Linked DNA regions of Homo sapiens. The gene in region 5 interacts genetically with the main gene of each other region. Each region holds a gene or a part of one and is shown on either strand. Other genes may lie near its edges. The genes, in order: PFAS, AURKA, COPE, CARS1, GTF2E1, PPIE and SLC39A9.

Region 1 (4,279 bases), on a different chromosome or scaffold from region 5:
AAGCTAGTCAGGGAAGACTCAGGGAAAGGGGACTGGAGGGCACTCCACTCTTTAATATATTGGAAATGGGGTCTGCAGGGTAGAGAAGGCAGCCCGGGCCTGAGACTAGACCCCAGGTTCCTTACCATCAACCCTGGGGACAGGCACATCCACCTGTAGCCCGCAATTTCCAGCAAAGGCCATCTCCAGCAGGCATGTGACGAGGCCTCCGTCACTGACATCGTGGCCTGAGCAGAGGAGGCGGTCTGGAGGAAGGAGAAGAAAGCTCAGCAACCTCGGGACCCAAACCTGACAGCCCCACCCCACCTTCCGGAGTCAGTCCATCAAGAGTGTGTGTCAGAATGTCAGGGGATCTGGGGTACATCGTCCATTGGAGTCCCTTTTGCCCCACTGCTCAGATGGTGAACGCCTGCTGCACGCCTGGCACCCTGTGCGCTATCTCCCCAGGGGTCTTCACTCACCTTTCAGCAGCCCCTGAGTGATGCTGAAGGCCCGCACCAAGTTCTCAGGAAGGTCCAGGTCTGGAGGGTGTTCCCCAAGCTGGGAGAAGCACTGGGCCAGAGCTGTGCCCCCGAGCCGGTGCTGCCCAGGGCTCAGAGCCACATAGAGCAGATGGCCTGGGGAGACGGGGAGGGGTGAGGGGAGGGGAACAGCTCAGGAGGACCCATCCCTGAGGGGCTCACAGCACTGCTATTCCCAGCATGTGGTGAGACACCTAGACAATCAGTCCCAGAAAACACCACAGCCCAGTGTTGAGATGGGGGCCCAGCACTCACAAAGCAGGAGCCAAACAAAGATCACACAAGCAAAGATCACAAAGGATGGGGCCATGTCCATACCTCTCCCTTCAGGATGCTTGAGGTCTGGGGTCACAGTGGCTGTGATGTCTGGGCAGACGGCATAGGCTGAGATGACCAGTGACCCTGTAGAGCAAGGAGGAGTCCAAAGGAATGAGTTGCCAACCCAGCTCCATAGTTCCTCCTCCCCTCCCTGGGGCTCCCACACCTCACCAGGAGCCCGCACGGTCTCAGTGCCAACCCGAGCAGCCATGCTGAGGGAGTCCTTGCCACCATCCACTGCCACACCCAGGGCTGCCATCACTGCCACCATAGCCTCACAGGCATCCGCCAAAGCTGCGCCCTCCCCTGGGAGCTTGGCTGCCCACATCCAGTTCCCGCTACACTTCACATCCTGGGGGTGGCAGAGGCACAGCATTAGAGGGGAAGAGAAATGTGGAGAGGCCAGGGGTGCAGGCGGACTGGGAGGTTGCAACATGAAATGAAGGGCTACAGATGGATGTGGAAGGGTCCTGAAGCCCGGGGGCTCCAGGATAGAAGCTGTGGGAGAACTCACCCGGAGGTCAGTGACCAGAGCAAACACCAGGTTGGTGAGGGCTTCGGCCACGGCCAGCCGGGCGGCGACTTTTGGGTCCAGCAGGCTCTTGACTGGCTGTTCTCCCAAGGCTGTGGCAGCCCCTATGAGCTCCTCATGGCTCAGTGCCACAACCGCTACATCTGCCAGAGGAGTTTGCAGGGGCCCCACGCACTGCTGCTGGGCCACCAGGCCTCCCACAGAGCGGTCCACCTGTGGAACCAGGTGGGGTTAGCAAGAGAGCAAGGGACAGGGACAGCCTGAGCTCCCGCACATGCCCCCAAGGCACTCAGGGCAGTGGGAGGCCTGTCTTTCCCCCAATGCAGACAACAGCTCTACTTAGAAGGTGGGTAGCAGGGAGACCAGGCCATCAGGGTGGCTGCCCTGCCCCTGCTGCTTCCTGCAGGGCCAGGCAAAAACCCCCACAGCACTTTCTAAGGGTGGGAGGGCAGAAGAGGCTGAGCGGAGGAAGGAGGCAGGGGGCAGAGGAAGGGTGCAGGGAGGACCTTATTGGTGAGGTAGCGCTTGCTGGCCACGGCGGGCAGCCTCAGAACCCTCTCCAGAGCCTGGTGCACGCTCAGCCCTGGGGGCAAGGCCAGAGGCTGCAGCATGGGGGGCTTCCTCTGCAGGAAGAACTCCTGCAACACAGACAGCGACAGGCAGTGTGAACACCTGGGGCGGGCTGGGCACACAGGCGACAAAGTGCACGTAGGGTAAAGGGTGGTGTGGAGAGGACCACAGGAAAAACCCATCCCCTCAACCCCACATACCTTCCGAGGCATCTTGCCCAGCACCCATTCGAGCTCCAGGTCCACAGGGGTTGGCAGGGGTGTCGGGGGGGCATCCCCCTGGCCATTTCTTCTGACAGGACACTCCCGATCGTCCACCAGCACTATCTATAGACCACAGGGACCCCACCCAGAGGGGATGAGACTATGAACACCAGCAAGGAATGTTCCTAGAAATCAGGGCACAAATGTGCTTTCCACTCCTTGTTTGGTTTCCATATTGAGTCCCTGCCCCTCCTTGGATCCAACATTCCCCACAGCTTGTTTGCCACTACCTCCCATCTTCCTCTCGTCTCTCTCCCTTGACAGCTCTCCCTCTAGCCCATACCCAGGTGGCTCATGTCTGCCCCAGTGTTTGCTCCCAACTCCCTGGGCCAACTCACTCTCCGGTCTCCAGTGATGGTGCCCACGAAGCAAGCCGGGCAACGTTCACGGGCACTGACATGAGTCAGGAAGTCCCGGTTGGGGGACCTCAGCAGAAGAGCATTTGATTCCTGGTACTCAGCCCCCCAGATTTCCAGGGCATTCAGGGTTGGGTCCCCAAGCTGCACAGCCACGGCGGGGAGGAAAGAGAAGGGCCAGTGGGCACTCCCACGTCTCATGTTGTTGCAAGAGAGATGGGTGGAAGCGGGCTGGGGCTGGCAGGGGTGGGAAAATGTCACACTTCAGGGGACGAGACCCACCTGGAAGCGGCTGGTGTAAATGATGGCTCCAGCTGGGTCACTCAGCTCTTTTAGGACATTGCCTGGTGAGAGGGTTGCAAGGAGAAGCAGTGACCTAGTGGTGGTCAGGCAACAAAGGGCAGTCCCTGGCCTCCAAAGGGGCCTGTAATTTGGTGTGTTCCTGTGTCAACTGCTGCCGCACCCTTACCACCAATCATCCCACGGCAGCAGGCTTCCACCCTTCCAACCCTGAACCTGTCTAGAATGTACAGAGCATGGAGAATGGGACCCAGAGCTGGGTGGTTGGTTGGAGATTCCTGATACCTCTCCCTAAACGAAACCTGGCAGGATACCAGGCAGGCCCAGTCTCTTGTTCCAACTCCTTTCCTCACCATTGCCACCAGCGCCCTGATCATGAAGGCTGCAGATGGGGTTTCCCTTGGGGGCCTCCACACAAGCCCTGATCACACGGTTCATCTTCTGTTCCATCTCCGGGTCTCCTCGCTGCACAGCCCCAAAGTCCAGGTCACTGGTGTTATCTCCCTGCACCTGGGGGCATATATGGCATAGCTCAGCTCAGCGAGACTGGAAGCTCCTATACGCTCCCCTATGCCTGGGGCCCGGTTATATCAAGGATTCTGCACCTTTAGCAATTCCCACTCACCTGCACAGATGAAGCAGCTCCACCTCCAACTCCAATCCTGTAGACGGGACCTCCAACCTTTACAACTTCCATGCCTGTAAGAAGGGAAGGCAGAATCAGAACACTGGGGAAGCCACGAGAAGAGGCCTCGAAAGCAAGGCAGCGTGAACACAGAGGAAGCTGATGTTAGGGAGAAGCCTGACCAGCTTTTTTTTTTTTGAGATGGAGTCTCGCTCTGTTGTCCAGGCTGAAGTACAGTGGTGTGATCTCAGCTCACTGCAACCTCCGTCTCCTGGGTTCAAGCGATATTCCTGCCTCAGCCTCCTGAGTAGCTGGGACTACAGGCGCCTGCTATCGTGCCCGGCTAATTTTTGTATTTTTTCAGTAGAGACAGGGTTTCACCATCTTGGCCAGGCTGGTCTCAAACTCCTGACCTCAGGTGATCCGCCCACCTCGGCCTCCCAAAGTGTTGGGATTACAGTCGTGAGCCACCCTGCCTAGCCCAGAAGCCTTACCACTTGACTGGGTTGATAGGAGAGTAAACTGATATCAACTACGGAGGACGATTTGGCAATAACAACCAAAATGACAAATGCACACAGTCTCTGATTGGGTAAATACACTTTGAGGAAGTCATCCCGCTGATTTATTTGCACAGGTATAAAATCACCTACTTACAAGATTAAACACCACAGTAACGTTTGTATTAGCAAGTACATGAAATAACCTAAAGGCTGACAACAGAGACCTCATTAAGTAAACTATGGTAAGTCTATACAATGAAAGACTAAGCCACCAAAAAAAGAGAATATAGG
Region 2 (4,919 bases), on a different chromosome or scaffold from region 5:
ATAGTAGGTCTATGCTTGAGTAGAAAATCCTGGGACACAAATAAAGATGATGAAATGGGTTCAAGGAGGTCAGGACACCTACTCAACGTAAAAAGTGGCTGAGTTACTTGTCCAAGGTTAAAGCACACCAGAATTGCCAACTCCAGATCCCTGAGCTTAACCACTGAAGGAGTTCAGGAAATGCCAGCCCAAAACAAGATGCTTTGGCGGGCTGATTACCTTGAACTGAGGGCACCTGGAGAACAGCAGGCGGGAAGAGGCTTTCCCTGTGCTTTCCTTACCTGCCTAAAGTCTGACCCTCCAAAAATACCTCAATTGTCACGAATCCTTATAAACCAGGGAAGATTAACTCGGATCACATGAGAGATTAGAGGCTGACACCACCCAGAAGATCACCTATTCTGTCTGCATAACAAACTTGATTCACCATACATTTCCTCCGTTCACCGTCCCATAACTTGTGTTAGAGCTGCTTCCCGCCCCCCGCCCCCAATTCTCTATTCATTCCTTTCAGTAGCTCAGGATGCCATGTAGGCTTTAATCATCTGACTTCAACTTTTAGTCTCGTATTTTGTGGGACTCCTGTACGTAATTAAATATCGTTTTTCTCCCATGGACAATGTTCAGTTACCCGAAAAAAATGGGAGATTCTTAAGTACCAATAAAGAATGAAAATCACAAGTGGGTAGTCTGGCAAAGAAAAGTTGATGAGAGATTCTACTGTTAACGTTGGGTTAATATGACTCGAATAATTTCCGTATGCTAGCTCAATGCTTTACATGCACATCCTGTTTACCCTGCAGTAATCTGTTAATTCGTCTTATGTGAATTTAACTCTTAGTCCTAATAAGGTACCTGGAAGGATGGAGGGAAGCCATTTTTGGTTCCCCTACACCACTGTTCTATCCGGTCTCTTCACTTCTGCTGAGCACATCCCGGGTGTACATACACACACACACACACACATATGTGTGTGTATATATATGTATATGTGTGTGTGTGTGTATATATATATATATTTTAAGTGGCCCACCCCTAACTTCTCAACTCCCACAGAACGTTCACTCGCCAGGTAAACAGAAGCCTAATTATCCCCAATTTGCAGGTGAGCACACGAGGACAAGAACCCGATCCAGGACCGGATACATCGCAGTTGGAAAGGCTAGAACACAGATGCCCCCTCACTATATGCGCCGCGACCATCTGGATGCAGAGGCGAACTAAGGACTGGGTGGGAATGGAAGCGAGGCCCTTCGAGAAGAGGAAGGGGTGCAGGCCAAGCCGGGCAACTTAGGAAACGCAAAGTAGAGGCGCATGCCACCTTGCTAACTCTCGACTCTTCCAGTCTCGCCCCAGTCGTTTCTGTGGTTTTCTCTAAATGCCCCAGCCGACCGCACCAGCTACTCTCCCCGTGTCCCAGTACCAGCTGGTCCGGTTCTCTTGGTATCCCGCTCTCTCCTGGAAAAATGGAGGCGCGAATCCTGCCCAATCTACCGCTCCGAGCGCACGTTCACTGCGCACGCTGAAAGGGCGCCAAGCCGACCGCTGCGCTATCGATCGGTCCCACTCTCTCTTGCTTTTCTCGCCATCTTACTTACTGGCACGTTCAAAGGTTAGTTCACCTCCTTGGACTTTATCTCCAATGCGTCAAGCTTGACGTCAAGGGGCTGTTGCTTCACCGATAAATGGCCGACCGCGGAGAGCACCCTGGGGCTGGGACTGCCACAGGTCTGGCTGGCCGTTGGCTCCACCACTTCCGGGTTCTTAGGGAGCAAGTGCGCCTGCGCGCGGTGTGCGCCCTTAAACGCGACTCAAGGCGTCGGGTTTGTTGTCAACCAATCACAAGGCAGCCTCGCTCGAGCGCAGGCCAATCGGCTTTCTAGCTAGAGGGTTTAACTCCTATTTAAAAAGAAGAACCTTTGAATTCTAACGGCTGAGCTCTTGGAAGACTTGGGTCCTTGGGTCGCAGGTGGGAGCCGACGGGTGGGTAGACCGTGGGGGATATCTCAGTGGCGGACGAGGACGGCGGGGACAAGGGGCGGCTGGTCGGAGTGGCGGAGCGTCAAGTCCCCTGTCGGTTCCTCCGTCCCTGAGTGTCCTTGGCGCTGCCTTGTGCCCGCCCAGCGCCTTTGCATCCGCTCCTGGGCACCGAGGCGCCCTGTAGGATACTGCTTGTTACTTATTACAGCTAGAGGTACAAGGGGTTTGTTGAGTGGTGTTGACATGCGCGGGAGGGGTGGGTGGGCTTCAGATTGGATTTTGTCCTCCGAGATCACCTGGGTAAGAAAAGCACAGAAGGTCTCTGCTGTGTTGGAGTTCACGTTCTAGTGGGTGGGGAGACAGACGGTAAGCGTACGGAGAACTTGCAGCTGGGGTGGGTGTTACAGAGGAAAAGCAGGAGTGCGGTTTAACGGGGGCCGCTTTAGATAGAATAGCCTAAGAAGGCCCTTGTCCTGGCTGGATGAGTGGGTGAATTGATGAATGAGAACCTCCTTGCAGAGGCCTTCCCGGTCCGTACTTCTCAGACCGTAGACCTTGGAGCAGTTGTACCGGGATAACTTGCAGTGCTTGTTAAACATATAGCTCCACCGAGAGCCCGGTAAATCAGAATCTCTGAGGGGTAGGACCCAGGTGTCTAGTTATTAACAAACTCTCCAGATGATTCTTAGGTTTCATTGAGAACTAGGGATGCAGACCGGTGCATACAAATCGTCTGGGGACGTTAAAATGCAGAATCTGTTTTTTTAGACCTGGGGTTAGGCCTCAGAGTCTCCATTTCTAAGAACCATCCGGCTGAGGTAGACGTAGCCACTGTCCTTAACTCTCGTAATGTCTCTTCCTCTTCCGTAACCTTCCTTGTCCCTTGAATTAAACGTTTTTCAGCAACCTACTCAGTTCGTCCTTCCCTTCATCTCTGCAGACATGCACAGGTCTGAGGGAGGAAGGAATAAACCGTATAAACCTCCTGCGCTATTAGCCTAACAGCTTTTCTATTCAAAATAGTAGGACTTCTGGTTTGAACTGAATGGATCCTGTGAAAGTCATCTGGTTCTTCAATCTGGTTGCAGATTAGAGTCACCTGAAGGGCAGTCTCCTTGGCGTTGTCTCCAGAATTCTGGATTAGAATCTTATTCCATTCTGCTTGTTATTCAATTTCCCTAGAAAGAAAGGTAGAATAAATTGGAGCAAATGCCTGTAGCTTCTGTCAGAAGAATGTTGAATAAATGTTGTTAGGCCTATGTGATCTCATTAGACTGCTACTTAGAATTGTAAGGGAAGTAAAGCATTAGAGCATGTGTGAAATTAAATATTTGATTAACACAAGTGTGCATTTCCTTGTTGCTGTTTATCAACTTTTACTTACCCACTGTTTTTTTATAAGGGCTGCAGCCTGTAGTCTGGGCCTGGCTTCATCATGGAATTATTTGCTTAATTGTAAAATGGTAATCTTAATTTTTTTTTTTGAGACAGGGTCTCACTCCATTGCCCAGGCCAGAGTGCGGGGATATTTGATAAGAAACTTCAGTGAAGGCCGGGCGCGGTGGCTCATGCCCGTAATCCCAGCATTTTCGGAGGCCGAGGTGGGTGGATCACCTGAGGTCGGGAGTTCCAGACCAGCCCTACCAACATAGAGAAACCCTGTCTCTACTAAAAATACAAAATCAGCTGGGCGTGGTGGTGCATGTCTGTAATCCCAGCTACTCTGGAGGCTGAGGCAGGAGAATTGCTTGAACCCAGGAGGTGGAGGTTGCGGGTGAGCCGAGATTGCGCCATTGCACTCCAGCCTGGGCAACAAGAGCAAACTCTATCTCAAAAAAAAAAAAAAAGAAACCTCAGTGAAATGAAAGACTGAACTACACACCTGGGGGAAAAGCGTAATAAAGGGAGCAAGAAGTGCAAATGCTTATGGCAGGGGACTTATTTGCAGAAAGAAAGCCTTGTGTGGCTGGTACACGGTTGACAAGAAGAGGAGATGAAGTCAGAGAGGTAGTTAGGGTCCATGTTCTGTGAGACTTCAATAGGCCTGTCTATGCAGGTTAGGAGTTTGCATTGTTTTGATTGAGTTGGGAGCCATGGGGGTCTTCTGAACTGAGGATCAACACATCTGATTTGTTAATGAGATTGCCGGCCTCAGTGTTAAGAATGGACCATGACAGGGTAAGGGTGGAAGTGGGGAGGCCATTGGGAGGCTGTTGGAAAAAACTCAAGGGAGAGAGAATAATGGTTTGACCAGGTGGTAGTAGTAGAGGTGGTGAGCAGTGATCTTGAAGGCAGAGCCTACAGAATATGCTGGTGGATTAAATGAAGGGTTTGCGAGAGAGAACCTCGTAAAGGGTTATTATGCCAAGGCTTTTGGCCTGAGCAACTGACAGGATGGGTTTGCCATGCACTGAGATGAGGATGTCTAGAGACTAGATTTGGGGAGGTGAGAGTGGGGAGAGATTAGGACTTCTGTTTGGGACATGTTAGAATGGAGATGCCGCTCAGATAATCAGGTGCAGATGTTGCATAGAAAGTAGAAAATGTAGATCAAGAGTTCAGGGGAGAGGTCTGGGCTGAAGAATGAATATTTGGGAGTCCTCAGCCTGTAGATGGTACTGAAAGCAAAGAGACTGGATGTACTCGGCTAGGGAGTAATTGGAGATGGAGAAGTCATTCTAGGCCTGAGCTCAGGGCACACCCATGAACAGGGAGGTGAGAAGTGGAGAAGGGAAGAGGTTCAGTTTTGGATATGTTAGGATTGAGGTGCCTGGCAGACATTTTTGGGAGATCCTGGGCAAATCCTTGGATATCCAAGTCTGACAGTCCAAGGAGAGACTAGGGCAGAAGACGCACTTTGAGTGGTCCTCATGAAGGCATTTAGAGCTGAGGCACTGGGTGATATGGATCCCTGGTGAAGGTGTAGATGGAGAAGTGGA
Region 3 (4,279 bases), on a different chromosome or scaffold from region 5:
GAAGACATGCTGGATTTAGGGTGGGCCCCAAAGCCAAGGACTTGTGTCCTTTTAAGAGATAAAAGGAGGGCTGGGTGCAGTGGCTCATACTTGTAATCCCAGCACTTTGGGAGGACGAGGTGGGCAGATCACCTGAGGTCAGGAGTTTTCAAGACCAGCCTGGCCAACGTGGTGAAACCCCATTTCTATTAAAAATACAGAATTAACAGGATGTGATGTCTGTGATTCCAGCTACTTGGGAGGCTGAGGCAGGAGAATCGCTTGAACCTGGCAGGCAGAGGTTGCAGTGAGCCAAGATCGCACTAGTGCACTCCAGCCTGGGTGACAGCGGGAGACTGTCTTAAAAAAAAAAAAAAAAAAAGGAAAGAGGCCCACAGAGTTAAGCCCATGTGACAACAGACTGGAGTGACATGTCTGCTAGCCAAGGAGCACCACGAGTGGCCAGCAGCCACCAGAGCTGGGAGAGAGGCCTGGGACGGCCTTGCCCTCCAGCCTCCAGCTGGAGCCAGCCCTGCCGCCACCTTGACTTCAGACTTACGGCCTCCAGAGCTGTGAGGAACGAATCCCTGTTGTCCTTAACTGCCCGGGCTGTGGTGCTTTGCCACAGCAGCTCCAGGACATTGAGACAGGTGACCTCCCAGGGCCACTGTTTCTCCCACCCTGCACTTACTTCACCAGCTGGAGTGAAGGCAGGGAACCCTGGGTCCCCCAGGAGCAGCAGCTGCTGTGAGCATCACAGAAAAGCAGCCCCGGAGAGCAGGCGGTCCAGGCAGGGGCTTGTGGTCCGTTCATCTGGCTGCACAGCCGCGACCTCATTGGCAGGACGCCCCGGGGACAAGGAGCATCCATTAGTAATTGGTTTTGGTTTTGATTTTGTTTTCTTGAGATACGGTCTTGCTCTGTCGTTCAGCCTGGCATACAGTGGCACAATCTTGGCTTACTGCAGCCTTGATCTCCCAGGCTCAAGTGATCATCCCACCTCAGCCTCCCGAATAGCTGGGACTACAGGCACGCATCACCATGCCTGGCTAATTTGTATATTTTTTAGAGATGGGGTTTTGCCTGGCCGGGCGCAGTGGCTCACACCTGTAATCCCAGCACTTTGGGAGGCCGAGGCGGGCGGATCACGAGGTCAGGAGATGGAGACCATCCTGGCTAACACGTGAAACCCCATCTCTACTAAAAATACAAAAAAAATTAGCCGGGCATGGTGGCGGGTGCCTGTAGTCCCAGCTACTCGGGAGGCTGAGGCGGGAGAATGGCATGAACCCGGGAGGCGGAGCTTGCAGTGAGCCAAGATCGCACCACTGCACTCCAGCCTGGGCGAAAGTGCGAGACTCCGTCTCAAAAAAAAAAAAAGAGAGATGGGGTTTTGCCATGTTGCCCAGGCTGGTCTCAAACTCCTGGGCTCAAGCGATCCGCCCAGTAATTGATTTTGTTGCTGTTGCTTGTTTTTGAGATGGTCTCCCTCTGTCACCCAGGCTGGAGTGCAGAGGTGTGACCACAGCTCACCGCAGCTTCAACCTCCCGGGCTGAAGCCATCCTCCTGCCTCAGCCTCCCAAGTAGTTGGGACTACAGGCGCCACCAGGCCCAGCTGACTTTCTTACTTTTTTGTAGAAAAAGGGGTCCTACTATGTTGCCCAGGGTGGTCTTGAACTCCTGGGCTTAAGCGATCCTGCCTTGGCCTCCCAAAGCGCTGGGGTTACAGGTGTGAGCCACAGTACCCGGCCCCATTGGTAATTGTAACACCTTAGGATGACAACATTACAGTACCAACGCTACGACAACTGGCAGTGTTTATACACCCTTGTGTGCTGGAGCCTCAGGAAGCTTTGTAAGATGGTCTTGGGAGCTCCTTGCTCCTCCCCTGCATGATCCCTGTAACATGGTCCCTCAGCACGGGGAAACAGACTCAGACCTGAAGTCACTTGTCTGTTGGACCTGGCACTGTGGCGAGCCCTCAGTGGAGCCTGGTTGGTATCAGACATGCCATGCCCTCAGTGACACCTCAGACACGGGCCCTGGGCAGACAGCCCCCAGATGCGCGTGGATGCTTACGGGGTCACAGAGCCACGTTTGAACCCAGAAGAACACCAGCTTTGGTCTAGGGTGGCCCCCTCACCTGCCTTCTCTTTTTAGCTGCTCAATAGCCATGGGGAATGGAGGGTCTGGGTCCAGTTAGGGACATGGAGGCATGGGTGACCTGTGCCCTCGGAGCTGAGCCGGTCCTCAGCCTTGCCTGGGCTCAAGCCTGGCCCTGGCCCGCAGCACACTGGCCATCTTCAGGGTGCAGCCAGCACCCTGGGCTCTCAGGGACTGAGGGCAGCTGCCCTGGCAGTGGGGGTGCCCCAGGGCTCCCATCCTTCTGCACGGCCCCTCGGCACCCAGGCCGACCTCCTGCTAGAAGACGTGGCCTTGAAGCCCACAGGGTTGATGGGTTATGGTCAGGAGTCCCAGCTGGGCCCACCAGCCTCCTCAGGAAGGCGGGTGAGGTTGGTGTGAGACTGACGGTGCCTCCTCATGTCCCCTTGGAGCGCCCCACCCCACATCTCCCGGCCTCGGGTCCTTGCCTGGCCCAGCATGAGAGGTGCTTCATAGGAACGGAGGGAGGACATGTCGGGACAGCTCGATGCTCGGCCTGCTGCTGCTCTGCACCCCCAGGGCCTGGCTCACCCTCTCTGGACCTGTCTGCTTCCAAGGAAGGGGACCCTCTGAGGTCCCACAGAGGCCACCCCAGCTGTGGGTCGTGAGCATCTCTGTCTTGCAGGGACAGCATCGTGGCCGAGCTGGACCGAGAGATGAGCAGGAGCGTGGACGTGACCAACACCACCTTCCTGCTCATGGCCGCCTCCATCTATCTCCACGACCAGAACCCGGATGCCGCCCTGCGTGCGCTGCACCAGGGGGACAGCCTGGAGTGGTGAGTGGCCTCCCTGCTCTGGGGCCAGCCCAGGGAGGCAAGTGCCCCCTGCCACATCTCCAGGCTGCGCACGGCCTCGCTGGCTGTCGTCATGGGAGCAGAGAAAGGTGGTGCTGAAATGAGGCCCTGGCCTGCTGTCCAGGCTCCAGCTCCCCTGCCCAGTGTGGGAGGCACTCCCATCTGCGCACCAGGCTGCAGATCCAAGGACACGGTGCCCAGGCTGCAACCCTCTGTTCCCAAGGGCAGAGCAGAAAGCGGCTTTGTCTCTGCTCGGTTTCTGTGTCCCCACCCCCCACGAAGCCTTCTGTGTCTCGGCCCTGGGCCCAGTCTCTCAGGCCTCCCCGGGCCCCCCATACCGGCCCTCCTCCAGGGCCCTCTGGGGTTGGGGTGCTGAAGCCCTGCAAGGTTGGTGCCCCCCTCCACCCTAGGATGTGACTCCGGGCCATGTCCAGGGCACTGGTCACAGAAAGTGTGTCAGTTCTTCCCCGTGAGCTGTCCCTGCAGTGCCTGCCTTCCACTGTGAGTTGCAAGCTGGGCATTTCATGGTCGCTGTGGATCTGCTCCCATCCCACCTCCATCCACAGAGGGCTTAGAATTGCAGGGCGAGCCAGGCATGGTGACATGCACCTATGTTTCCAGCTACTTGGGAGGCGGAAGCAGGAGTATCCCTTGAGTCTGGGAGGTGGAGGCTGCAGTGAGCCGTGATGGTGCCACTGCACTCCAGCCTGGGTGGCAGAGCCAGACCCTGACTCACACACAAAAAAGAAAATAAATAGGGATGTCACACTGTCGGCGAGCCGGCCGACTCGGTGCTGGTCCAGGTGCTGGCTCCTGTTGGCAGGAAAACAAGAACAAGAGGCCTCACGAGTAATTCGTGGTCACAGCCACCTGGGGCTGAGAGGGATGAGGGGACGAGGGGGCCTGCAGAGAGTGGGTGGCCCCAGGGCTCTGCTGCAGGTGCAGGTGCAGGGGCGGGTGCGTGGCCCTCCTCTAGGGCCTTGTTCCTGAGTGTTGATGCCTCCAGGGTGTCGAGTCCGGGCAGGGCCCTCCATCTGGAAGCACAGCCCATGGAGGCTGCTTCTCCAGATGGGCGGTGAGTGGGCCGGGGCCTGAAACCCCATCCTGGGTACCTCCCCCAGAGCTCCTGGGCCTGAGGAAGCTGAGCGGTGAAATGTGGGAGTGAGGGTGTCCTCCTCTGCTGGGCGGGGCTGGTGGTCCTAAGCACAGGACTTAGGAACATCCCAGACACACACAGTGAGCCCTGGGTGTGGAGCGGCCATGCAATGTGTCTGTGGCGACCCGCTGACCGCCCCCTCGCCCTGTCCTGCAGCACAGCCATGACAGTGCAGATCCTGCTG
Region 4 (4,279 bases), on a different chromosome or scaffold from region 5:
CAACAGACTGCCAGGGTGTTCTGGATGGATTTTCTCACCGCACAGACCCACTAGACAGGGGGCTCTACAGGATGACCTCCCCCTGACCTGTGGGCCACAGCTCTGGGGCAGGGGGTCCTGGCTCAGGCCATGTGGACCGACCTGGGCTCAGGGTCAGGACTGGGCCTGTTAGGGCATCTGCCCAGCCCCATGGGGACCGAGGCAGACAGTGGCGTATCTCCCCATCAGTGTAAATTCTGTGCTGTTTGTGAGCTCTGCAGCCTTTCGATGAAGCATTTACTGAATACAGGTCAGTATATGTGACGAAGTCATGTGTGTTCATGATGCCAAGTGGCCGCAGCAAAATGCAAATAAGCAGCGGCCTATGTAGTTGGGGTCCAAGACCAAGCTCATGGGACAGCACAATGGCAAAGTGCCCCAAACCAACAGTCACAACCAAAGCAGACCCTCCACACCGGCAGGGCAGCTGACCACACTTAGCACTCTCAGAGCCAGAATTGCCATTTAGCTCGAGGCGCTGTCCGGAAGGGTCTGGTGTGGGTGGGCAGACAGAGGAGGGGCAGTTCAGAGGGACACAGAGGGGTAGGGAGTGGGGAGGGAGCAGGTGCAGAAGGCAGGACCCTGCATGCTACTCACACTGAGGCTGGTTCCAGGCCCTCCGACCGGGAATCCCAGGGAGCTGTCCTCTTCTACGGCCCCAAAGATCTAGGAAAAGAAACAGATGGGACCTGAAGCTGCGGCAAGATGAAGGCGGCATGTGGCGAGCAGCTGTGAGCTGTGTTCCTCGTTCACGGGAGGGGGTGCCCCAAGACCAGGAAAGAGATGGAAGCAGCAGCTCCAGGAGCCCCAGAAACCCGAGCCTGAGGGTGCCCTCATTGCTCCAGGATGGCCCTGACTCACAGCTACCCTCTCCAGCTCTGTTTCAGCCAGAAGCCACTGGAGCCCAACAACAAGGAAAGAGGAGGAGAGGGGAGGGGAGTTGAGTCCAGGCCCTGCTGGCCTTTCAAGGTGCACTGCGGGGAAGGGCTCTGCACAGGATGTGTTCAGAGAGGAGGCCTTGTCCCTGGTTTTGCTTCTCTTTTTTTTTTTTTTTTGAGATGGAATCTCACTCTGTCGCCCAGGCTGGAGTGCAATGGCGCAATCTTGGCTCACTGCAAGCTCTGCCTCCTGGGTTCATGCCATTCTCCTGCCTCAGCCTCCCGAGTAGCTGGAACTACAGGAACCCGCCACCATGCCTGGCTAGTTTTTTGTATTTTTTTTAGTAGAGACGGGGTTTCACCGTGTTAGTCAGGATGGTCTCCATCTCCTGACCTTGTGATCCGCCCGCCTTGGCCTCCCAAAGTGCTGGGATTACAGGCGTGAGCCACAGCGCCTGGCGTGGTTTTGCTTTTCAAACTCCAAGATGGGAGTAGAGGGAAACGGAGTCAAAGGAAAGAAATAGCTCTGAGTAAGGACAACTATATGGATGTTACTTATTTTTGTCTGGTTTTGAGACAGGGTCTCCCCTCTATTGCCCAGAGTGGAGTGCAGTAGTGCAATCACACCTCACTATTCAACCTCCTGGGCTCAAGCGAGCCCCTCACCTCAGCCTCCCAAGCAGCTGGAAAACAGGTGTGTGCCACCACACCTGGCTAATTTTTAATATATTTTATAGACCCGGGATCTCACTATGTTGTCCAGGCTGGTTTTGAACTCCTGGGCTCAGGTGATACACTCACCTGGCCTCCCACAGTGTTGGATTATAGATGTGAGCCACTGTGCTCCGCTTATGGGTGTTATTTCTAACGCGTGAAAAGCACACCAGGAACCAAAGAGGACAGAAGCATATCTCCACGTCTCAGAGGTGCTGGGCACCAGGCACAGCACTGGGGGGCACCAGAGGCCTCTGTTCTCCCAGTCCTGGGGCCTGGCTCCTGTGTCCACACAGGCTGAGGGATACGCCTGCCTGGGGCCTGGCTTACCTTCAGCATATGGGTGAGGTACAGGGCGATGTTCTCCAGCAGAGCCTGGTTGGGCCTCTTCCTCACGGCTTTCCGGGCTGCCATATAGAGGTTGCACTGACTGACCAAGGCCCGCATCTCTTCCATGACGGTGCGGGTGTCAACATTGTCACAGAGGGCTTTGTGAATTGCTGTCTTCTTGTCATAAAAGCTGAGCAACAAAGAGGAAGGAATGTGAAGTCAGACCTGAAAACACACCATAGAAATTCCCCATGTGGCCAGGCGCAGTGGCTCACGCCTATAATCCCAGCACTTTGGGAGGCTGAGGTGGGCGGATCACCTGAGGTCGGGAGTTCGAGACCAGCCTGACAAACATGGAGAGACCCCCACCTCTACTAAAAATCTGAAATTAGCCAGGTATGGTGGCGCATGCCTGTAACCCCAGCTACTCGGGAGGCTGAGGCAGGAGAATCGCTCGAACCCGGGAGGTGGAGGTTGTGGTGAGCCGAGATCACGCCACTGCACTCCAGCCTGGGCAACAAGGGCGAAACTCCGTCTCAAAAAGAAAAAACAAAAAAGAAATTCTCCATGCACTTCAACACCCAGAGCAGCTCCCATTAGCAGAGCCGCCTATCCTGAATTAATTCTGCACAACGTACGACAGTGTCCCCAGCCCTTCCTCGACAGTCCAGGACACATGGTGGCCAAGATGCGAGGCTAGGCATAGAACATGGGCATGCTCAAAAACCCCAAAGAAATGGCACCACCTTACTTCTTATTCAGTTCTGCTTCTTCTTCTCCCCACTTCTCAAACTGACCAGTGATGTCAACAGGAGCGCGAAGGATATCTTTCACATTTAAGAAAAACTCCTGAAGTTAGAAAAATCAGTTTAACAGCATTTAGGCAACTTTTCCATCCTGAAATATCTGTTACAACTTTCTACTGCTGTGATTTTATTTTTGGTAAAAATCTGAAAGACCAGAATTACACAAGTGGTCAGAAAGAAAGGAAAAGATATTTCTTTGACAGAAACATGCTCTTGCTTTAGGTTTACAGATGCTCATTTGGTGGAAAGTACAAGTCAGAAGGACGTGCACTGCAGTGACTAGGAGGACGAGGCCTCTGTCCACTCTGCTGAGCCGTCAGCCATTTCAGGAGTGGCCCCGAGCCTGTTATACCCACTAGCATGGAGGTGCTTCCACCCATGTGCTGGTCTCCATTAGAGACATCGGGAGGCTGGTGCACCTATCACCACTGCACAAGGTGCCCACTGTGCAGGGGAGGCTGCTCCACCAACCTCCAGGAAGGGGCTGGGGACTCACATTCAAGAACTTCTCATATTGAAGCGCTGACTCCATGGTGTTGCTGGAGTAGTCCAGGGTGTCCTTCCACGAGTGCATGAGGAAGGCCAGCCGCAACTGCCGTGCTGTGGGGGGACACAAGACAGCCAACGCCCTTATTCTCCCGAGTGCTACAGCCATTACACATGTATGAGAAGGTGGTTGGGGGGTCTGTGGGAGAAGCCAGTGTATACCTGAGTGCTTTTTCAAGGCATCTTTAATGGTGATGAAGTTTTTTAGTGACTTTGACATTTTGCAGCCTGCAATGGTCAGGTGGCCTGTGTGCAGGAAGTACCTGACCCAGCAGTCGTTTTCAAAGTAGGCCTGCGTGGAAAGAGACAAAGGATGTCAACAGTCATGTGTTACTGGGGCCGCCTCCTGCCACCTGCACTGTCTGCTGCCTTGTTGGTGCTGTCCACAGGCAGGAGCTGCGTTTTCCAGGTGGTGCAGGCAGGGCTTGGAAGGACAGCCCAGGTTAATAAGCCAGCAGGTAACACAACTGGTTCAAATCCAGGCTAGTCTGTTGCCAAAGGCCAGGCTGTCAATGCGGAAACCACACTAAATGATCAGGGTTCAGATTCCACCCACAAGCCCCGATGAAGGTGTCAAGTTCTAGTGAGAGAGGCCCTTCTGAGGCCTGGGCTGACTTTTCCTCCACTGCAGTATGAACACTGTGCTCTTGCACCTGACAAGGGGACTCTGTTTTCACCTACCTCCGACTGTGCCAGCTCATTGTCATGGTGGGGGAACCGGAGGTCGAACCCACCTCCGTGAATGTCCATCGAAGCCCCTAGGAGGGTGCCTGCCATGGCCGAGCACTCGATATGCCAGCCCGGACGACCCTGGAGAAAGCCGAACACACAGTGACTGACCAGCCTACCCGCTTGTCCAGGCCTTTATCACTTATCACTCCAAGTTGATGGCCCTTACATCCTCTGAACTTTATTGGAACAAGCGTTAAATCCCGCACATGAAAAGACTAAGGGAAGGCTGGGCGA
Region 5 (4,279 bases):
TATTACTAAAGAATAAAGTCAAAATGAAGCTTATCATTCAAGACCAATTTATGGTCACCCCAGTTTATCTTGTTAAGTCTGTTTTTTATCATTCTTTTTGATAACTGTTTTCCTATCAGACTGAAATTGCAGTCTAACATCATTTTTCAACCACCCTACTTCTCTTATGATGATCTAGAATGTCCTGTTCCCTTACCCCTTCATCTTCTCCTTCATCTTTTATCTTCTAAACTGTCTCTCAAAAAGGTTTACCTTCTCAATAAGCTTTTCCTAGTGTCCTCAGCTAGAAGTCACATTCCTTCTTTGAACTCCAAAACATTTATGTACTTTATTTTTTGCACTGATCCCTGATTGTTTTATCTCCAGACATCTTTCTTCCCTACTAAAGCTTCTTGCTGACTGGTTCTGTCTGTGTATGCCACCACCACTCTCTCAGTAGCGTGGGTGCCTGCTTGCTACATAGTATGTGCTGGGTTTCCGTGTCCTCCTGCCCCTTGCCACTTGCCCCTTCTGATTTCAGGAAAACTGATTTGCATTTTTACAATGCGTAGTGAAATGTATAAAAAATGCTGCTGGTATATTAAACTGGTCTTAAGTCATTTTCTGTAAAATGTCAAATTTCTTACTTTTCTTGCATTTTTTAGGGTCCCAGAAGAAAAATAAGAAATTCTACATTTGGCTTTGACAGGCTTCTCATTTATAACTAATGTTTTTGTGATAAACACAGGGCTCAGAGATGTCAGGCTAGCTTTTCCTTTTGTAATATTTGCTAGATGTGGTATTTATTGGGAGACTATTCTCCATGGGTCTCTCACATGTTATGCATGTCTTGGCAAGCAGAGATACAGACTGACTGCTTTTTTTCCTGGACTATCATTTTCAAGGATGTTTATATAACGAGCAGCCTTGCAAGACAGAGATAGTATTTCTCTTCAGAGCAAAGAGCAGGTTTGCTTATGGTCCAGTATAAAAAGTGTCTCCTTCCAGAGCATGTTTACATAGAGTTTATAGTAAGTAAGGATAATGCCACCCTCCAGTGCAAAGAATGGGCATGCTTATGCCCATTATAAAATATTTGAGTTCCTTTTAAGCTCAGGCTCTCTTTCCTGTAACACAACCCATTGCATGTGTAATTGTTACCTGGCCCTTCTATCGCACCCCATGGAAATTGGGGCATGGGGAACTGGCTTAAATACTGACACTGGCTACTGCTATTTCCTTGAGTAGTGAAGTTCTTTGTCTCTGACCTGGGGTCTTGTGTCTTCTGCCAGTATCCATGAAACTGGCAGAATAACTTGTTAGCTTACAAGTAGGGTAAAATCTCAGACCCTTCACAGTTCTTAGTAATAATGTTAAAGCTGCTGTTTTCATACCTGCAAAATCAGCCCTTCTGTAAGTAACTCCTGTTAAGTTTGGATGAGATTAGAATTTAGGTGCCTTATGACTATATACTTTATTTTTCCCCCTATTCTTTTTCATGAAAATAAATTACTCGAGTTAAAGGACTGTCATTCTGAGATTGTCCTTCTGTGAAATAATGATATTAGTGTTGTTCTCTTTCTCTCTTTTCCCCAAATAAAAGCACTGCTGTTTTATGAGGATGAGCTACACTGACAAGCATGTTGATTTGTTTACTTAAAGCTGAAGTTTGGAGTACATATTGTCTTAAAATGAGAAATGGGGTATTTGGGAGGACATTTTTTTAAAATTCGGGTATAACATGACTTTTTAATGATAAATTAGATAAATAATAAAACATGTTGGATAATGATAATGCTAAGGGAAAAGAAAATGAAAGAGGATACGATTGTTTGGGTGGACAAGACAGTTGAAATTTTAGATAATGTTGGCTACAGAAGGCCTTACTGGTGGCTTCTGAGTAAAGAACTGAAGTAAGTTTGGAGATGAGCCATGTGATTTTCTGGAGGGAAGGCATCTGGGTAGAGGGCACAGCAGTGCAAAGGCTCTGCAGCAGAGTGTGCCTGATGGGAGACATTGAGGAGGCCGGTTTGTGATGCTTTGAAAACAGATAATGAGAGGGTTGGAGTATTAACCTTTGTCTTAGCTGTGTTTCTATACTTTACCCCAGAGCATTTGCTTTTATGTTTATATATTAATCACCTTTCCATTTGAGAAATGAGATTCCTTTCTTTAAAAACATTTTGAAAACTACAGAACTAGATAACTTGTCTTCCAAACTATTCTTAGTTCTCATTGACAGTCTCTGTAGGTGCTTATTTTTCAACAGTCAATTTAAGTCCCAGTCTCACATTGGTGTGTTTTTTAATTCAGCAGGTATTCGAGAGCTATATTCAACCCTACTTTATGTGGTTTATTTTTAAGCCCCCACATGATTATATTCCTTGCTTCTGTTGAAGAGAAGAGGCTGAGACAGCTTGGAACAGTTGGAGAATAATATAAGATAACATTCTACCTAAAACCTTTCTAGCCAAGGTTGCTTCTTACCCTTTGTTACCAAATATAAAAGCTAGTTTTCAACTCTTGTTGGCCTCTTAATATTAGGACCATACATTTCCTTGAAACACCATCCTGTCACTCTGGTTGCACCATTTCTCTTTCTCAAGGATTCCTCATTCCTTGAGTTTATGCCTTAACTGCTTCTTCTCACTCTCCTTAATCTCTTCGGATGCTTCTATCTACTATATGGCTTCAGTTACCACCTATAGGTTGTTGATTCTCATATCTAAATTTGTAGTCTAAACCCCTCTCTTGAGCTGAATTGTTAGCATTTGTAATTAGTTGGCTTTTTACATATTCATTTTTATATTTAAAGCAATTTGATATCTTTTACCTAAAAAAAAAAAAAAAGCTAGTTCTTCCTCTCTTTACTTTGGTATAATAGTATTCTTGTCCAGTTGATTAAGTTATAATCTTTATGTTCGTGACCATTAGTCAAAAGCTATCAGGTACGCACCTGTAGTAAACAAAGTTAGGTTTATTGATGCTTTCTGCAGCAAGGGAAGCCACATACCATGGGGAAACCATGAAATGTCGGTAAGATGATGTTGGACAGACTTAGAGAATGTGGGCTTTTGTTGGGTAATTTTGGGGAGGATTCAGGGAAGTGATGAAGGTTTCCTTTGGATTGGATGCTGTGAAGAAGTGGGGATAATTCTATGATTGGGTATCTTCATAAATCTTATCTAGGAGGTGACAAGAACAGAGTGACGCTAAAACTAAATGGTAAAGAAGCAGCAGTCACTTGTGCAAGATGGGATTTTTTGTGGTTTGCATGGAGTCCTTGCTTTTGTCTGTTCTCAGACGCAATTCCACAGTGGCTTGGGTTTGCCTCACTTCCATCATAGTCTGATGTTAGTGATCTGTGAGATCTTGTTTGACAGAAAAATGCCACAGTCTAGCTGTGAGTGCTGAGCCACCTCCTAGCTGTGAAGGGCTGCATTTCTCTCTCTTTCTCACTTATTTGGGATAGATGTAGATTAGGTGGCATTTAGACAATAAGAAGATGTATTTTAGGGTATTTGAACAAATAATTTACATGCTATTGGCTATGTGTGAGGGGCAGTAAAGAAAATTATTATACTGGTAATGTATCAGTAGGATCTAGTGTTATGTTGAAGTAGAGATCACTTGGTTGTTTGTTCTTTATGTATCAATCATACATGGGGCCTTTTATAGCTAAATGTTTGAGTACTTAACTATTTGCCAGACACTAAGTACTTACATGTTCCCTTTTAATCTTTCAAGTAAGTTGAGTCAGAAAGGAAGGATGCATATTCCTGTCTTTGGGAATAAGAACCAAACTGGAAATCCAGGTGTGGCTAGTGGTGTAGACTGTTAAGTAATGTTTAAGAGTGTGAGTTTTAGCATAATAGATTGAATTGATTAGATACAAATGGTTAATAAATTTTAAAAAATAGCCTGTGACAATGTTCAGGATGACTAGAAACTCTTGGTTTTAGGTATTTATTTGGCTTTCCCCATAACGTAGGCCCAAATGTGTAATGTGAAAACAAAAAAGACTAAAGCTGCCAGGAAAGGGTACAAGTTGTGGTGGTAAGCTGTAAAGAATTTGGCTTTAAGTTAAAATAAATACATATTAGAAATATTGTGATTAAAAACTATGCTGAAGTTAGGGATGAAATTACTTTGAATACATCAAAAATGATAGATGGATAGATATGTGATGAATAGCAAAATGCTAATTGTAGAATCTAAATGGTGGTCACATGGCTGTTCACTGTGAAATTCTTTCAACCTTTGTGTATATTTGAAAGTTTTAATAATAAGATATTGGGGG
Region 6 (4,279 bases), on a different chromosome or scaffold from region 5:
GAACATAGTCCAAGCTCTGGTGGAGCTCACAATCAGTGGAAAAGAGCCATTCAAAATGACAGCTATGACACAGTGAGGCCTGGTAACATGGACATTTGTCACGTAAGAGAATGTACATGTATATGTGTGTGTCTGTGTGTGTATGTGTACATGTATGTATGTGTGTGTGTGTCCACAATGACTCCTAAGTTTCTGATCAAGCGGCTAAGTGGATGGTGGAGTCATTTATTGAAACAGGGAAGAGGAGGAGGAAGAGTTTAGGGGAGAAGGCCAAGAGCTGTTTTAGACATGTAAAGTGTGAGATGCTCGTGGGATATCCAGTGAAGACAACAGGCAGGCAGTTGGACAGGAGTCTGGAGCTCAGGGAGCCATCAGCATGCAGATGCCAGTCTGCACAAACTTAACTCAGAGATACCGCTGAAAGCCCTGGGACCGGGTGTGACTGCTTAGGGCACTGCTTCTCAGTGGGGTTGGTGTCCTGTCCCTAGGAAACCTTTGGAAATCTGAATTTACTTTTTTTGAGATGGGGATCACTCTGTCACCCAGGCTGAGTACAGGAGTGCATCACAGCTCACTGTAGCCTCAATCTCTGGGGCACAAGCAATCCTCTCACCTCAACTCCCAAGCGGCTGAGACTACAGGCGTGCACCACCACACCTGGATAATTTTTTTATTCTTTTTTCAGTAGATATAGGGTCTCACTATGTTGCCCAGGCTGGTCTCGAACTCCTGAACTCACGTGATCCTCTGGCTTTGGGCTGCCACTTCAGACTCCCAAAGTGTTGGGATTACAGGCATGAGCCGCCGTGCCTGGCCTGAAAGTGTTTTTGACTGTCTGAAATATTGTGGGGGTGCTACTGGCATTTAGCAGGTGGGGGCCTGGAATGCTAGATGTTCTGCAATGTCTGGCACAATGAATTGTCTCATATCCTCTTGGCCCTTACAAACATCCTGCTAGAGGCTGGGCGCAGTGGCTAATGCTTGTAATCCCAGCACTCTGGGAGGCTGAAGTGGGAGGATCACTTGAAGCTAAGAGTTCCAGACTAGCCTGAGCAATATAATGAAACCCTGTCTCTACAAAAAACTTAAAAATTAGCCTGGCATTATGGATGGCGTGCACCTATAATCCCAGCTATTTGGGAGGCTGAGGCAGGACTGCTTGAGCTGGAGAGGTTGAGGCTGCAGTGAGCCGTCTTGCACCACTGCACTCCAGCCTGAGCAACAGAAAGAGACCCTGTCTCAAAAAAACAAAAACCAAACAACAACAAAACAACAAATATCCTGCCAGATATTGGTATAGGTAAAAAATGTGTTTACAGTTATCTGCACCTAAAACATAATTCCATTATACATATAAGCCCAAAGTTTTGGAGTGCTTTTGATTTTCCATGGAATCTTCTAGGAATGTAACTACTATGTAAATAAACAGATTATTCTTTACTTTGGACTCTAATCAACTTTATCTACCATTTCACAAAGCCGTATCACCAATAGCATCACTCCTAGTGGTATCCAGTTGACACTCCCGTCTGCATTTCTAACTGCTGCGTTTGAGTACAGGGGCAGACGCCTGAATAATTCACTTTGTGTTCTGACACAGCTGTGCTTAAGCATGTACATCTGGAAACATATTCGAGTATTATACAAATTCGTTTATTTCCTCTGATGTTCTTCCCTATTATAGTTACAGATGAATACTGATTTTTAAAATAACGATGTGGGTCAGTGGGCTATATCACCTACACATGTCAGTTCAGTATAGTAAAGAGGGGCCCTACAAACCACCAGTTAGAAAAACGGAGCACAGGGTAACAGGCTTCTGGAGAACCAAAGAATGGGCTCTGAGCCACTTCAGTGTTTAAGGGTCAGGAAAAGAAGGAGACAGCAAAGACAGAAAAAGCAGCCATCTAGGTAAAAGGAGACAAGAAGAGGCAGGAGTCCTGCCAGCCAAGTGAAGAAGGAGTCAAGGAGAACAGAGTTAGTACAGGCTGAGCATCCCAAATGTGAAAATCCAAAATCCAAAATGCCCCAAAATCTGAAACTTCACGAGCACTGATATGATACTCAAAGGAACTGCTCACTCGAGCATTTCAGATTTGAGATATTCAGATTTGGGATGCTCAACTGGTAAGTATAATGCAAATATTCCAAAATACAAAATACTTCTGGTCCCAAGCATTTCAGGAAAGGGACACTCAACCTGTAGTATGAAATGCTCCTGGGAGGTGGGATAACATCTGGGAGGTGGGATAAGATGATCGCCAAGAACTGGCTACTCGTATTTTTGGCAAGAGTGGTTTCAATGGCGAGATGGGACTAGAAGTCTGCCTAGAAGGGATTAGAGAAAACGCGAAGGCAGCAAGTCTGTACCATGTTTTCAAGAAGTTATGCTTTTACTTCTTGAAAAAAGATGGGGGACCAGGGGCATGGGTGATAGCTGGAGAGGGAACAAGAGTACAAGGATGAAGTTTGTTTTTTTTTTTCCGAGACGGAGTTTCGCTCTTGTTGCCCAGGCTGGAGTGCAATGGTGCGATCTTGGCTCATCACAACCTCCGCCTCCCAGGTTCAAGTGATTCTCCTGCCTCAGCCTTCCGAGCAGCTAGGATTACAGGCACGCGCCACCACGCCCGGCTAATTTTATATTTTTAGTAGAGATGGGGTTTCTCCATGTTAGTTAGGCTGGCCTCCAACTCCTGACCTCAGGTGATCCGCCTGCCTCTGCCTCCCAAAATGCTGGGATTACAGGACTAAGCCACTGCACCCGGCAACCGGATGAAGATTTTTTTTAAAGGTTGATAACTGCATGCTTTCATGCTAATGGACTGATCTAGCAGAGCAGGGGAAATGGATTACAAGAAGGGGACAACTTTAGAAGCCATGTTCCTAAGTAGAGGAGAGGGACAGGATCCAGTCCACAGGTGGAGAGGCTGGCCTAGGAGAGACAGCTCATCCCCTGTAATTGGAAGAAAGAGCATGCACGAGTGGAGAGATGCAGGAGGTGAAGCATTAGATGAGGTGGGAAGGTGATGATATGAGGGCTTCAGAAGTGAAGACGGGCATGGACACATCATCTCCGGTTGGGACTGAGCATCAAGTAGGGAAATCTGGTCAGGTTGGCAAGGGTCCCCTTAAGAACTATAGTTATAAATTTCAAGTGGGATTGTTCAGTACAATTCTGTGTTTTTTCTCTAGTTGCTGGGGGACTAACCACCGAGATTTTACTGAGTAAATCTGATGGTGAGGGCAGGGAGAGCAGTGGGGTTGAGAGCATAAGAGCCTGCAACAGCAGACCACAGAATCCAAGCGGGGCTAATAGGAATTGTGGACACGGTTGGGGGATGAACAGTACCTGAATGTCAACAAGCCAACTCCACCCTAGCAAGGCTGCATGGTTCTCCTATGTCTGGTGGCTGGGTCTCCTCCAGACTCTTAGTGTCCGCCAGCCAGAACTACAACCTGTCCTTCCATCCTGCCTGGCCATCCCACCCTTGCCCAGCCTCCCTCGTCACCACATGCCAACTGGCTCCTACCTGGTCCCGTATGCTTGAGGATAAAGTTTTCATCATCGAACTTCTTCCCATAGATGGACTTGCCCCCAGTGCCATTGTGGTTTGTGAAATCACCGCCCTGGCACATGAACTGGGGGATGATGCGGTGGAAGCTGCTTCCCTTAAAGCCAAAGCCCTTTTCATGAGTGCACAGGCAGCGGAAATTCTCTGGAATTGAGAAAGGAAAAAGCGCTGGGGTTAAAAAATAGGACAAAATAAAAAACCTCGAAAAAACTTTGGTTTAGTGTTCATATTTTTGTTTTAAAATAAGAGATACTCATTATAAACCTTTGTGATACTAACCTTGTAAGGACTATAAGGGATTCTTTTTCCTTGAGACGGAGTTTCACTCTTGTTGCCCATGCTGCAGTGCAATGGCACAATCTCAGTTCACTGCAACTTCCACCTCTTGGGTTCAAGTCATTCCCCTGCCTCAGCCTCTTGAGTAGCTGGGACTACAGGCATGTACCATACACCTGGCTAATTTTGTATTTTTAGTAGAGATGGGGTTTCACTATGTTGGCCAAGCTGGTCTAGAACTCCTACCTCAGATGATCCGCCCACCTTGGCCTCCCAAAGTGCTGGGATTACAGGTGTAAACCACCACACCTGGCCAGGACTATAGGAGATTCTGTTGAAGGGGGATTGAATATACATGTTCGAGCTCTGTTCCCTTTTAAAACCACACTAAATTGGTAGGAAACTGATTTTTTAAAAGAAAAACCAAAGGA
Region 7 (4,279 bases), on a different chromosome or scaffold from region 5:
TGTTGCCCAGGTTGGTCTCAAACTCCTGGCCTCAAGCAAACTTCCAGCTTCAGCCTCCTAAAGCACTGGGATTACAGGTATAAGCCACCATGCCCGGCTCAAATCTTAGAATTTACAAATGAAATTCCAAACAGGTATAAAATCTCTTGTATTACCATAAGAGGGTAAGAGCAATGTACCAGACAATATAAAAGTCCTTAAAAATGTAACATTGTTAAATCTACTTCAAAGAGAACCTATTGTAGAGGCAGAAGCATACTGAATAAATCTGTTCTTCAGACACAATAAACCTTTGATTTGCGGGTAACTCAAACCCCTAAAGATACTTATTATGAATGAGTCAGTTATTATAATCAGACACTGATATGGTTTGGTTGTGTCCCCACCCAAATCTCATCTTGAGTTGTAGTTCCCATGCGAGGGACCTGGTGGGAGGTCATGCTGTTCTTGTGATAGTGAGTTCTTGCTGTTCTTGTGACAGTGAGTTCTCACGAGATCTGATGGTTTTATAAGGGGCTTTCCCCCTTTTGCTCAGCACTTCTCCATCCTGCCGCCCCATGAAGAAGGATGTGTTTGCCTCCTCTTCTGCCATGATTGTAAGTTTCCTTAGGCCTCCCCAGCTATGCTGAATTGTGAGTCAATCAAACCTCTTTCGTTTATAAATTACCCAGTCTCAGAAATGTCTTTATTAGCAGTGTAAGAATGGACTAATACAGACACAAAACTTTAAAACACGAAAGAACAAAACAAAGCTTAAAATGAGAGTAAGTATAATGAAGAAAAGAGAGTTAAATACTAAGAAAAATAGTATAAAGCAGGGAGGGTAGAGGAAAAGCCCTGGCCTCTCCAAATAGAATGGTAAATAGTAATGCAAACCAAACCCCACAACAAGACCTTTGGATTCCAAACAAATTGCCGAGAAGTTTCCATGACTGCGAAGGGGAGGAGGGGGAGGAGCTTCCCATTATTAAGTCTGTTTCCAAATAAAAGGTTTAACAATTATAAATTAGAACAAAGTTATAAAAATGAAAATCTTTACAAGTTTTTCTAATCAGTATTGAGAATCTGCCTCAATATTTTTGAAAGTTTTTATTATGTTCTAGACATAGTGTTAAGCCTGTGCTTATATTATTTCAACCTCACAACAATCCTAGAAGGTCATTTAACAGAAGAGATTTGGATTTTAATAGCTTGTTCAAGTAGTAACATTGACTTTGAATGATACTGTCTCAGACAGTCCCTTTTGAAATCAGTGCATTATTAATCATATTCATCTTTAAAATCATCCTAAGAATAGCACTACTTTCATCTGCCAACTTATGGATTTATGCTGTTGGTTATTTTAGGGAGTAGGTCTCCTTATGTTGCCAGTGGCTATTCACAGGCACACTCATAGCTCACTGCAACCCTGAACTCCTGGGCTCAAGTGATCCTCCCACATCAGCATTTGGAGTAGCTGGGACTAACCAGTGTGTGCCACTACATCCAGTTTTGCTGTTTTTGTTTGTTTGTTTTTTGTTTTTTTGAGAGGGAGTTTTGCTCTTGCTGCCCAGGCTGGAGTGCAATGGCGCAATGTTGGTTCACTGCAACCTCCGCCTCCCAGGTTCAAGCGATTCTCCTGCCTCAGCCCCCCAAGTAGCTGGGATTACAGGCACGTGCCACCACGCCCAAATAATTTTGTATTTTCAGTAGACACAGGGTTTCTCCGTGTTGGTCAGGGTGGTCTCGAACTCCCGACCTCAGATGATTCGCCTGCCTCGGCCTCCCAAAGTGCTGGGATTACAGGCGTGAGCCACCACGCCTGGCCTGCTTTGCTGTTTTAATACATGAAAAATGTGGCATTATAACTCAAACTGGTCTGCAATAAGAAAAGTATGGCAACTGAGATAAAGCCTTCAGAAATTTTTAGAGCAATATGATTATTACAATTATAGTAGTAATTTTTTATCTGTTGAATTTAACAATACATTTGGGCTTGTATTTTCTATGTCTTTTTTTCACTTCATTTTCCTACTATTTCATTTTTATAAGTGTATTGGTATGGATTGAAATAAAAATTAAAAACAAAAACTGATCCTTTACCAGGCAGTTTGAGGAATATTGCTGTAGAGCTCTGAGCCAAAAACAGCTTGCTCTCTGTTACCAGCTCTGTGACAAAGAGGAGACATACTCAGGTGAGTAACAACCCTCAGATAATCAATCTGAAATCCCACTTGAGCCATCTGTTTTTGTATCATAGCTCCATTTATCAACTGCAGCAGCACTGAGTTTATACTAGGTAATATAGGCTCTCAACCTACTTATGTAACATTGTTATTTAGAGCCAAAGAAAACTACTCATTAGCAATTCAATCGAAAAAACATAAGACAGTGTTAACTATAAACCAACGGGTCTCACTCCCTTACCAAACAGGGCTTCCTTTGTGTAAAGCATGCTTTGGCCTCCTTTATTTATTTATTTTTATTTATTTATTTTTATTTTTTTCTGAGACAAAGTTTTGCTCTTGTTCCCCAGGCTGGAGTGCAATGGTGGGACTCGGCTCACTGCAACCTCCGCCTCCTGGGTTCAAGCAATTCTCCTGTCTCAGCCTCCTGAGTAGCTGGGATTACAGGCACATGCCACCACGCCCAGCTAATTTTTGTATTTTTAGTAGAGATGGGGTTTCGCCATGTTGGCCAGGCTGGTCTCGAACTCCTGACCTCAGGTAATCCGCCCACCTCAGCCTCCCAAAGTGCTGGGATTACAGGCGTGAGCCACTTAGCACCTGGCTGGCCTCCTTTAAAAGTTAAAAGTGTTTCTCTTTCCTGTATACTGAAAAAATTTACATCCTGATTATCATAGTTACTTATAATTGCATTTGAGAATCGGATTTTTTTTCCTTTGTTTTATAAATTTTTAAGGCATGAAAGTACAGTTGCCAGGTCAAAGGGCAAGGAAGAAGGCCACAAAAGTATCAAGAAAGGTAGTTTTGGGGTGAGGAGAAACTGACAGAGAAATCAATGTCACATAAACCTCTTGGTGGGCACATCTGGCAGGTAGACCCCACCACTACTGCAATTTCAGACTACCTAATTTTAACTCGTTTTTAAATACTAATCTTGCCATAATTGATCATCTGACTTTTATTCCTGTTCTGAGATATTTTTAGAAAAAGTATTGAATGAGAAAGCAGCAGCAAGATTAAAAACATGAATAAAAAGCATATCTTTTCATGTAAATCAAGCTTGTCCAACTCATGGCTCGTGGGCCGCATGCAACCCAGGAGCACTTTGAATGAAGCCTTACACAAATTCATAAACTTTCTTAAAACATTATGAGTTTTTTTTTGCATTTTTTTTTTTTAGCTCATCACCTATCTTAGTGTTAGTGTATTTTATGTGTGGCTTGAGATAATTCTTCTTCTGATGTGGCCCAGGGAAGCCAAAAGATTGGACACCCCTGATGTAAACGAAAGTGAACTGTAAAACAGTAACACTAGCCTCTAAGAAAGCCAGACTTCCTTAAAAAGGCAAGTCATTTATCCAGTGTAGGAGTTTGGGGAATTATTTTCTAAGGAAAGAAATGGTGCTTTCCAGTCCCCCGTGAATGAAATTTATTTTTACAAATTTACCATCTCACTAGTTTCATTACAACATTGGTCCATAATAATGGCATAATTTACCTAGAAAATATGTTTAGTTCCTAGGAGATAGAAATCCTAGTTGAATTCTAGGATGTCTTTAAGTTATATATAACTTTCATTTTTTATTCTAATAGCTCAAAATGCATTGCATCTACTCTAATAATAAACAGATATTATGAATGCTGATTTTAGCATTTTAAGACCTACAGCTGGAAAAGACCATCTGACCGTCAATTTAAGAAAGCCACAAATGACATGACATACTAATTATCTGTATTAATGACCCAGTTATTAACACCACTCCTGTAAACATTTCCTTCTAGTGAAAAAGGAAATAGTATATATCCGCATATTGCAATAATCATTCAAGGTAGTTTGAAAAAATACTGGAATTGGTAAAGTTAAAGGCATTTTATAGAAATAAAAAGTTTTACTGGTTGCTTATCAGAATTAATTATGATTATTCATAAATGTTACTTCAATATGTTTAAAAATACACAAACCAACCCAAATCTCACACATGTCAGCCCTACTAATGTCAATTCAATTCTAATATAGTTATAAGAAAATATGGTTATGTCAAAGGAAACATAGCAGGTTCACAAAGTACTGGGCAGGCAGGTAACCCAAATAAGTGAAACAGGCTTCAAGGGCAA

What was found.
Region 1: changes in GTF2E1 (region 5) and PFAS together harm fitness less than expected from each alone (positive genetic interaction), as found in Homo sapiens cells (one large-scale study listed by BioGRID).
Region 2: changes in GTF2E1 (region 5) and AURKA together harm fitness less than expected from each alone (positive genetic interaction), as found in Homo sapiens cells (one large-scale study listed by BioGRID).
Region 3: changes in GTF2E1 (region 5) and COPE together harm fitness less than expected from each alone (positive genetic interaction), as found in Homo sapiens cells (one large-scale study listed by BioGRID).
Region 4: changes in GTF2E1 (region 5) and CARS1 together harm fitness less than expected from each alone (positive genetic interaction), as found in Homo sapiens cells (one large-scale study listed by BioGRID).
Region 6: changes in GTF2E1 (region 5) and PPIE together harm fitness less than expected from each alone (positive genetic interaction), as found in Homo sapiens cells (one large-scale study listed by BioGRID).
Region 7: changes in GTF2E1 (region 5) and SLC39A9 together harm fitness less than expected from each alone (positive genetic interaction), as found in Homo sapiens cells (one large-scale study listed by BioGRID).

The regions. Positions count from the first base shown.
Region 1 is NC_000017.11:8,262,200-8,266,478, reverse strand, and holds part of PFAS (phosphoribosylformylglycinamidine synthase), read right to left. Parts: intron 3,560-4,279; coding exon 3,486-3,559; intron 3,371-3,485; coding exon 3,214-3,370; intron 2,905-3,213; coding exon 2,843-2,904; intron 2,705-2,842; coding exon 2,543-2,704; intron 2,268-2,542; coding exon 2,142-2,267; intron 2,010-2,141; coding exon 1,878-2,009; intron 1,585-1,877; coding exon 1,354-1,584; intron 1,192-1,353; coding exon 1,011-1,191; intron 924-1,010; coding exon 840-923; intron 618-839; coding exon 462-617; intron 246-461; coding exon 126-245; intron 1-125. UniProt on the Homo sapiens protein: Phosphoribosylformylglycinamidine synthase involved in the purines biosynthetic pathway. Catalyzes the ATP-dependent conversion of formylglycinamide ribonucleotide (FGAR) and glutamine to yield formylglycinamidine ribonucleotide (FGAM) and glutamate.
Region 2 is NC_000020.11:56,389,218-56,394,136, reverse strand, and holds the start of AURKA (aurora kinase A), read left to right. Parts: upstream 1-1,921; 5' UTR 1,922-1,969; exon of another isoform or gene 1,970-2,346; intron 2,347-3,471; exon of another isoform or gene 3,472-3,581; intron 3,582-4,919. UniProt on the Homo sapiens protein: Mitotic serine/threonine kinase that contributes to the regulation of cell cycle progression.
Region 3 is NC_000019.10:18,905,602-18,909,880, reverse strand, and holds part of COPE (coatomer subunit epsilon), read left to right. Parts: intron 1-2,768; coding exon 2,769-2,921; intron 2,922-3,945; coding exon of another isoform or gene 3,946-4,014; intron 4,015-4,251; coding exon 4,252-4,279. UniProt on the Homo sapiens protein: The coatomer is a cytosolic protein complex that binds to dilysine motifs and reversibly associates with Golgi non-clathrin-coated vesicles, which further mediate biosynthetic protein transport from the ER, via the Golgi up to the trans Golgi network.
Region 4 is NC_000011.10:3,015,145-3,019,423, forward strand, and holds part of CARS1 (cysteine--tRNA ligase, cytoplasmic), read right to left. Parts: intron 4,124-4,279; coding exon 3,995-4,123; intron 3,606-3,994; coding exon 3,476-3,605; intron 3,397-3,475; coding exon of another isoform or gene 3,368-3,396; coding exon 3,264-3,367; intron 2,811-3,263; coding exon 2,713-2,810; exon of another isoform or gene 2,712-2,712; intron 2,152-2,711; coding exon 1,962-2,151; intron 706-1,961; coding exon 637-705; intron 1-636. UniProt on the Homo sapiens protein: Catalyzes the ATP-dependent ligation of cysteine to tRNA(Cys).
Region 5 is NC_000003.12:120,766,383-120,770,661, forward strand, and holds part of GTF2E1 (general transcription factor IIE subunit 1), read left to right. Parts: intron 1-4,279.
Region 6 is NC_000001.11:39,748,340-39,752,618, reverse strand, and holds part of PPIE (peptidyl-prolyl cis-trans isomerase E), read right to left. Parts: intron 3,717-4,279; coding exon 3,531-3,716; intron 1-3,530. UniProt on the Homo sapiens protein: Involved in pre-mRNA splicing as component of the spliceosome. Combines RNA-binding and PPIase activities.
Region 7 is NC_000014.9:69,401,290-69,405,568, reverse strand, and holds part of SLC39A9 (zinc transporter ZIP9), read right to left. Parts: intron 1-4,279. UniProt on the Homo sapiens protein: Transports zinc ions across cell and organelle membranes into the cytoplasm and regulates intracellular zinc homeostasis. Participates in the zinc ions efflux out of the secretory compartments.